2 linked regions of the Homo sapiens genome follow. The protein of the gene in region 1 purifies or fractionates together with the protein of each later gene. This does not show direct contact. Each region holds a gene or a part of one and is shown in the gene's direction. Other genes may lie near its edges.

What was found.
Region 2: the proteins of DDX24 (region 1) and LCN1 purify together in Homo sapiens (affinity purification with mass spectrometry, with the first as the bait; one large-scale study listed by BioGRID). This does not show direct contact.

Annotation. Positions count from the first base shown.
Region 1 is NC_000014.9:94,060,703-94,064,202, reverse strand, and holds part of DDX24 (ATP-dependent RNA helicase DDX24), read left to right. Parts: intron 1-1,581; coding exon 1,582-2,106; intron 2,107-3,136; coding exon 3,137-3,290; intron 3,291-3,500. UniProt on the Homo sapiens protein: ATP-dependent RNA helicase that plays a role in various aspects of RNA metabolism including pre-mRNA splicing and is thereby involved in different biological processes such as cell cycle regulation or innate immunity.
Region 2 is NC_000009.12:135,524,347-135,527,054, forward strand, and holds the end of LCN1 (lipocalin-1 isoform 1 precursor), read left to right. Parts: exon of another isoform or gene 1-156; coding exon of another isoform or gene 157-483; coding exon 484-585; coding exon of another isoform or gene 586-761; exon of another isoform or gene 762-785; coding exon 786-811; coding exon of another isoform or gene 812-812; intron 813-1,997; coding exon of another isoform or gene 1,998-2,171; 3' UTR 2,172-2,194; downstream 2,195-2,708. UniProt on the Homo sapiens protein: Could play a role in taste reception. Could be necessary for the concentration and delivery of sapid molecules in the gustatory system.

The DNA of each region.
Region 1 (3,500 bases):
ATTTTATCTTTTTTGTTGTCTTATTAGCTATAATTCTTAACGTCTTTTTAGTGATTGCTTTGGGGTTTATAGTATATATCTTTTATTATAGTTTACCCTCAAGTAATTTACTACTTCGCATACAATGTAAGAACCTTACAAGAGTATTTTCCATTTCTCCCCTCCTTTGTGCTTTTTGTTGTATACTTCATATGTGTTAGAGATTCTAGAATACATTTTTATTATATTTGCTTTAAACAATTATTTTTAAAGATGTTTAAATAAGAAAAATAAGGGGTTTTGTTTTTTTGTTTGTTTTTAGAGACAGTATCTCCCTCTGTCACCCATGCTGGAGTGCAGTGGCACGATCATGGCTCACTGCAGCCTCAAACTCCCATGCTCAAGCAATCCTCCTGCCTCAGCCTCCCAAGTTTCGAAGACTACAGGAGTGTGCCACCATGCCTGGCAAATTTTTTTAAAGATGGGAGTCTCACTATGTTGCCCAGGCTGGTCTTGATCCTCCCGCCTAGACCTCCCCAAGTGTTGGGATTACAGGCATGAGCCACCATGCCTGGCCATAAAAAGAAGTTTTTAAATATTTACCTACGTAGTTACTGTTTCGGTTGCTCTTTATTTCTTTGGGTACATCCAGATTTTCATTTTATGTTATCTTTGCTATTGCATGAAAGACTAATATTTCTGATAGCTTACATTTGCTGCTGGTGAATTATTTCAGCTTTTATATGCCTAAAGTCTTTATTTCACATTTTGTTTTGAGTGGGTGTAGGGTTATAGATTGTCAGGGTTTTATTTTTAGGCATTCAAATAAAAAATATTGCTACACTGTCTTCTGGCTTTTCATTGTTTCTGATAAGTCTGCTGTTCTTCTTATCAAAAGTTTCATGTGTCTGTTTTTGCTCTCTTTTTTCCTTATAGTATCTTATTTTTGTGTGTGTGGTTATTTTTTACTGAGAGCTGCTTATTTCCTTTGAAAATTGTGAAAATTTTTGGAGATGTATGGTAATGGTTTCTCCCTTGAGAAAGCATTTATTGGCTTCTGCCTAGGGCATTATCACTTTGGAACTTCTTTAAATTCTCAGCCTGAGATGTTTTGTTTTGACCACCCAGATGATTTGGACTCTGTGTACATTCAAAGGCCAGTTTGAAAATGTTCAGGCATAGACAAAAGTTTTATATTTACATTTTCTGAAAACTTAAGAAAATTTTCTTTTACTCCTTTCTCACCAAAGAAAAGTCTTGGGAAAGTATTGTATGGATTACTGTTTCCTGCTCCTCACAGAAACAACACATACACCCAAAACTTGCCCTTTCTCTCTTTATTGTTTCATTTCTTGGACATTTGTAATTCGTTACTGGTGACCTAAGACCTCAGTGCTAGCCTGCCATACTTTTCCTCGGGTTCTAATTTACATGTGCCTTCTGGTTCCTTCTGGGGAAATCTGTGTAGAGTGGAGGAGCTTTGGGTCGGTCAGGGTGGCACTTGGCTACCTTATTCTATGCAAAAGAATGAATTCCAGACTAAAGTATGTTCATCTGTTGATTCACACTGTTTTTACTTTGTTTTGTTTTTTTACTTTTAAGGAAGTGGGAAAACTCTTGCCTTTGCCATCCCAATGATTCATGCGGTGTTGCAGTGGCAGAAGAGGAATGCTGCCCCTCCTCCAAGTAACACCGAAGCACCACCTGGAGAGACCAGAACTGAGGCCGGAGCTGAGACTAGATCACCAGGCAAGGCTGAAGCTGAGTCTGATGCATTGCCTGACGATACTGTAATTGAGAGTGAAGCACTGCCCAGTGATATTGCAGCCGAGGCCAGAGCCAAGACTGGAGGCACTGTCTCAGACCAGGCGTTGCTCTTTGGTGACGATGATGCTGGTGAAGGGCCTTCTTCCCTGATCAGGGAGAAACCTGTTCCCAAACAGAATGAGAATGAGGAGGAAAATCTTGATAAAGAGCAGACTGGAAATCTAAAACAGGAGTTGGATGACAAAAGCGCCACCTGTAAGGCATATCCAAAGCGTCCTCTGCTTGGACTGGTTCTGACTCCCACTCGAGAGCTGGCCGTCCAGGTCAAACAGCACATTGATGCTGTGGCCAGGTTTACAGGTGAGGTTTAGTTCCATTTAATAAATATTTTCTAGGTAAATCCCAAATGCTCGTTGGTAAAGATGAATGAGCTGTGGCTCCTGCCCTCTAGGGTAAGCCACTCTCATCTATAAGCCAGACAATTAAGCCCTACAGAAAATTGATATAGTGACATTTTTTCAGTTCCCTCAAGGATAATACATGGTTGGTGCCATTGTGGATGCATAGGAAATTTATTGGATACAGTAGATGCTCAGGGCAGGGATTAGCAAACTGTCTGGTTTTATAAATAAAGTTTTGCCGGAACACACCCACACCCATTTGGTTTTATATTGTCTGTGGTTGGTTTTGTACTACAAAGGTGAAGTTGAGTAGAGTTAATAGTTGTGACAGAGACCATCTGGCCTATGAGGTCAGTAATGTTCACTAGTGACCCTTTCAGAAAAAGTTGGCTGATCCCTGCTCTAAGCTATTAGGATTTAATTCTCTCAGGGAATTCACTCTGGGAAGGGCTTCACTCTGGGAATCTTAATTTTATAATGAAAGCAGCAATTAATTACCAAGTTGTTACTATTGCTAAGCCCTTTACCCACATGATACTATGAGAATTTCTGCACCAGAGACGAAAACAACAGGGCATTAGTGGACCTTTCAGAATAATTCTAACTGAGGGAATGGAAGGGCTTCCTAGGAGAGGTGTAGCACAGCTGCAGGTCATATTCCTCCCAGCATTATGGTGCCCCAGTGCTCCGTTTTCCCAGAGCTTTGGAGGTAAGCATACCTGGGTTCAAATTCAGCCCCTTTGGTGTGGTTGGAGGGGAGGGAGTAGAAAAGAAATGAGGCTGAAGAAGTAGAGCTCAGATCACAGAAGACTTGGTAAGCCCTCTAGGAGTGGCGTCAACAGTCTGGCCAGGCCTGCTCTTTTAGCAATGCTCTAGGGCATTACACTGTGCTGATGTCTGTCTCTGCTAATCTGGGGTGCCTGTGTCAGCCATGTAAGAAAATGATCACCCAGATTGAATAAGTGTCCCTTATGTTTTCTGTCCCATAGGAATTAAAACTGCTATTTTGGTTGGTGGAATGTCCACGCAGAAACAGCAGAGGATGCTGAACCGTCGTCCTGAGATTGTGGTTGCTACTCCAGGCCGGCTGTGGGAATTAATTAAAGAAAAGCATTATCATTTGAGGAACCTTCGGCAGCTCAGGTAATAGATGGCACTTCTCTTTTCCCCCTCACTGCCTTTTCTGAAATGAGCCTTAGGTGACATGGTGTGGGCAATGCCTTCTTCTCATCGCAGAATGCTATGGTGTGGTATCATCCAGACCCTGGCCTTTAGAAAGCCAAGAGTGCATGAGGGAGATTAGTTGAGGGCCTGATGGTGGTGGTGGTAGTGGGGTGTGTACGTGTGTGTGTG
Region 2 (2,708 bases), on another chromosome or scaffold:
TGTGAGCAGAAGTCTGCATGGAAAGAACGTTCCAGCTCCCGGGGTTGAATTCCGGACGCGGTGCCTCCCACAGATGGTGACTCATCAGTGCTGTCCCTGTCAGAGGACGAGGCCCATGAAGGCTCCTGAGTTCTCCCTGGAGCCAGGGGTGTGCGAATGACAGAGGATTGGGATCCTGGTGCCCCCAAGGGGAGAGGCGCTTCCTCCAGGGTGGGCCTGTCGTGCCGTCCATCCTCACTCCGGGAGATGCTCAGGGATGGATGGAGAGCCCTTCCCGTTCTCCCGGTTCTGCTGCCACAGGAGCCTTCTCAGCCGTGCACGGCACCCTGGTCCCACTTTGCCAGCCTGAGGGCCTCTGGGTTCAATTCCCCCCACGGTGGGCGAGGTCCCCTTCCCCAGCCCAGCTCAGGCCTCCAGACTGGGATGGGGTGCCGTCGGCCCAGTGCTGCCTCGAGCACCCACATCTCGTCCTGGCACCCACAGGCAGAGACCCCAAGAACAACCTGGAAGCCTTGGAGGACTTTGAGAAAGCCGCAGGAGCCCGCGGACTCAGCACGGAGAGCATCCTCATCCCCAGGCAGAGCGGTAGGAGGCATGGCCCTGCAGAGCCCCCCATGTCCCCGCGTGGGGACATCAGCAGAGCTGCATTGCACGGGCGCATAACTGTGCTGCGTCTAATTCTGGCTTTGTCCTTCCTGGGGTGGTGGAGCTGGTGGCTGATGAGGGGCCCCGGTCCTGACTGCATTCCTGGGGTCTCCTAACGCCTGTGCTTCCTTTTCCTGCAGAAACCTGCTCTCCAGGGAGCGATTAGGGTGAGTGAACAGCTTTAGAGGACATTTGAGAAAATCCAGTTCTGGGGCTCAGTGGTGCTTCCAGAGGCCATGGGGTCTCTCCCACCCATCCCACTCCTACCTGGGTGGGAGATGCCCCACGTAGGTCAGGCAGGTGGGAGCTCTGCTCCTGAGCTGCCCACGCTCGGGCGTCAGACTCCGTTCTTGCCCTGGGTGTGACTCCTGGGCAGCTGGGAAGCCCACAGCGCTGAGCCCGCCTTTGCTGGCTGCTGGTGGAGACGGTGTCTACCCCCCAGTCACATGGGCAGGAGCAGGCAGGAGATTCGGGTTCCTCCTCAGCACCCCTCACCCTCGGCCATGCCTGTGACTCCACTTACCCGATAAGTTGCTCAAAGATTCAGCAAAGTGGCAGGCGTGCCTGTGCTCGCTGTGTCAGATGGGCCCCTTGCTGGCTGCACAAGGGGACCAGAGTTTGGAGACTCGCCCAAGGTCACCTGCCCAGGTGTGGGCAGAGCCAGAATCCTGGACAGCATCGCTGTCCTTCCCGCACCCTCCCCTTGGCCTGCAGTCACCCTGATGCCACTTCACTCAGCAGGGAGCTCTGTCAGCAGCCTGCGGGGGTGGTCCCTGCTCCATCCGCTCCAATCTAGAGGCTGGAGCCCCCACCTGCAGCCCCCAAGAGTCCGTGTGTGCCCCCCACACCATCGCCCCCAAGAGCTCGCATGTGCCCACCACACCATAGCCCCCTAGAGCCCGGTGCACGTCCCCCACACCATTGCCTCTGAGATCCAGCACGTGCCCCCGCAACCATCGCCCCCGAGAGCCCGCATGTGCCTTCCACCGTAACCCTCAAGAGCCCAGTGTGTACCCCCACCATAGCCCCCGAGAGCCCACATGTGCCCACACACCATAGCCCCCGAGAGCCCACATGTGCCCCCCACACCATGCCCCTGAGAGCCCACATGTGCCCCCCACACCATCACCCCTGAGAGCCTGCTGTGCCCCCCACACCATAGCCCCCGAGAGCCTGCATGTGCCCTCCACATCACAGCCCCCAAGAGTGCAGCGTGTGCCCCCCACACCATGCCCCTGAGAGCTCACATGGGCCCCCACACTGCAGCACCCAAGAGCCCACATGCGCCCCCACATTGCATCCCCCTCCCACCCTTGCTGTCCTGGCCTCACTCACCCTCCCCCCCTTTCCAGGGCAGGGGACACCTTGGCTCCTCAGCAGCCCAAGGACGGCACCATCCAGCACCTCCGTCATTCACAGGGACATGGAAAAAGCTCCCCACCCCTGCAGAACGCGGCTGGCTGCACCCCTTCCTACCACCCCCCGCCTTCCCCCTGCCCTGCGCCCCCTCTCCTGGTTCTCCATAAAGAGCTTCAGCAGTTCCCAGTGACTCCGCCTGTCTGTGGGGTCCCTCGGGGTGAGAGGTGCTGGCTGGGTGCTCTTTTGGGTGCAGGGACTGGGTGGGAAGCAGGAGGAAGGACAGGGAACCAGCCTGGACCCAGTTCTCCCTGGTGGGTGCCACAGGCCAACAGTGGGAGGGGCCTAGCAGGGGGGTGTGTGCTGGAGGCTGGGCCTGAAGGTCCCGGGGTGCTTCCTGCAGGTCAGCCGCCCGCTGAGCTCAGGCTGTAGGGGTTGCGGGGGTGGGGGCAGGGCTCCACTCCTCGGTCCTGCACAAGTAAGACCGGAAGGCCTGGGACCAAGCGCAGCTGCCACCCAGAGGGGACTGGGCAGAGCCACCAGTGCCCTCAGCACTGATGCTGAGTCCGTGAGGCTGGACGTGGGGGGAGGGGACAGCAGCTCAAGGCAGGGTGTGGCTCGGGCTTGAGCTCACCGGGGAAGCCAGTCCTGTCCTCCGGGGAGCCACACCAGCACTGCCCCCAGAGCCTGGCTCCACGCTGTCCCTC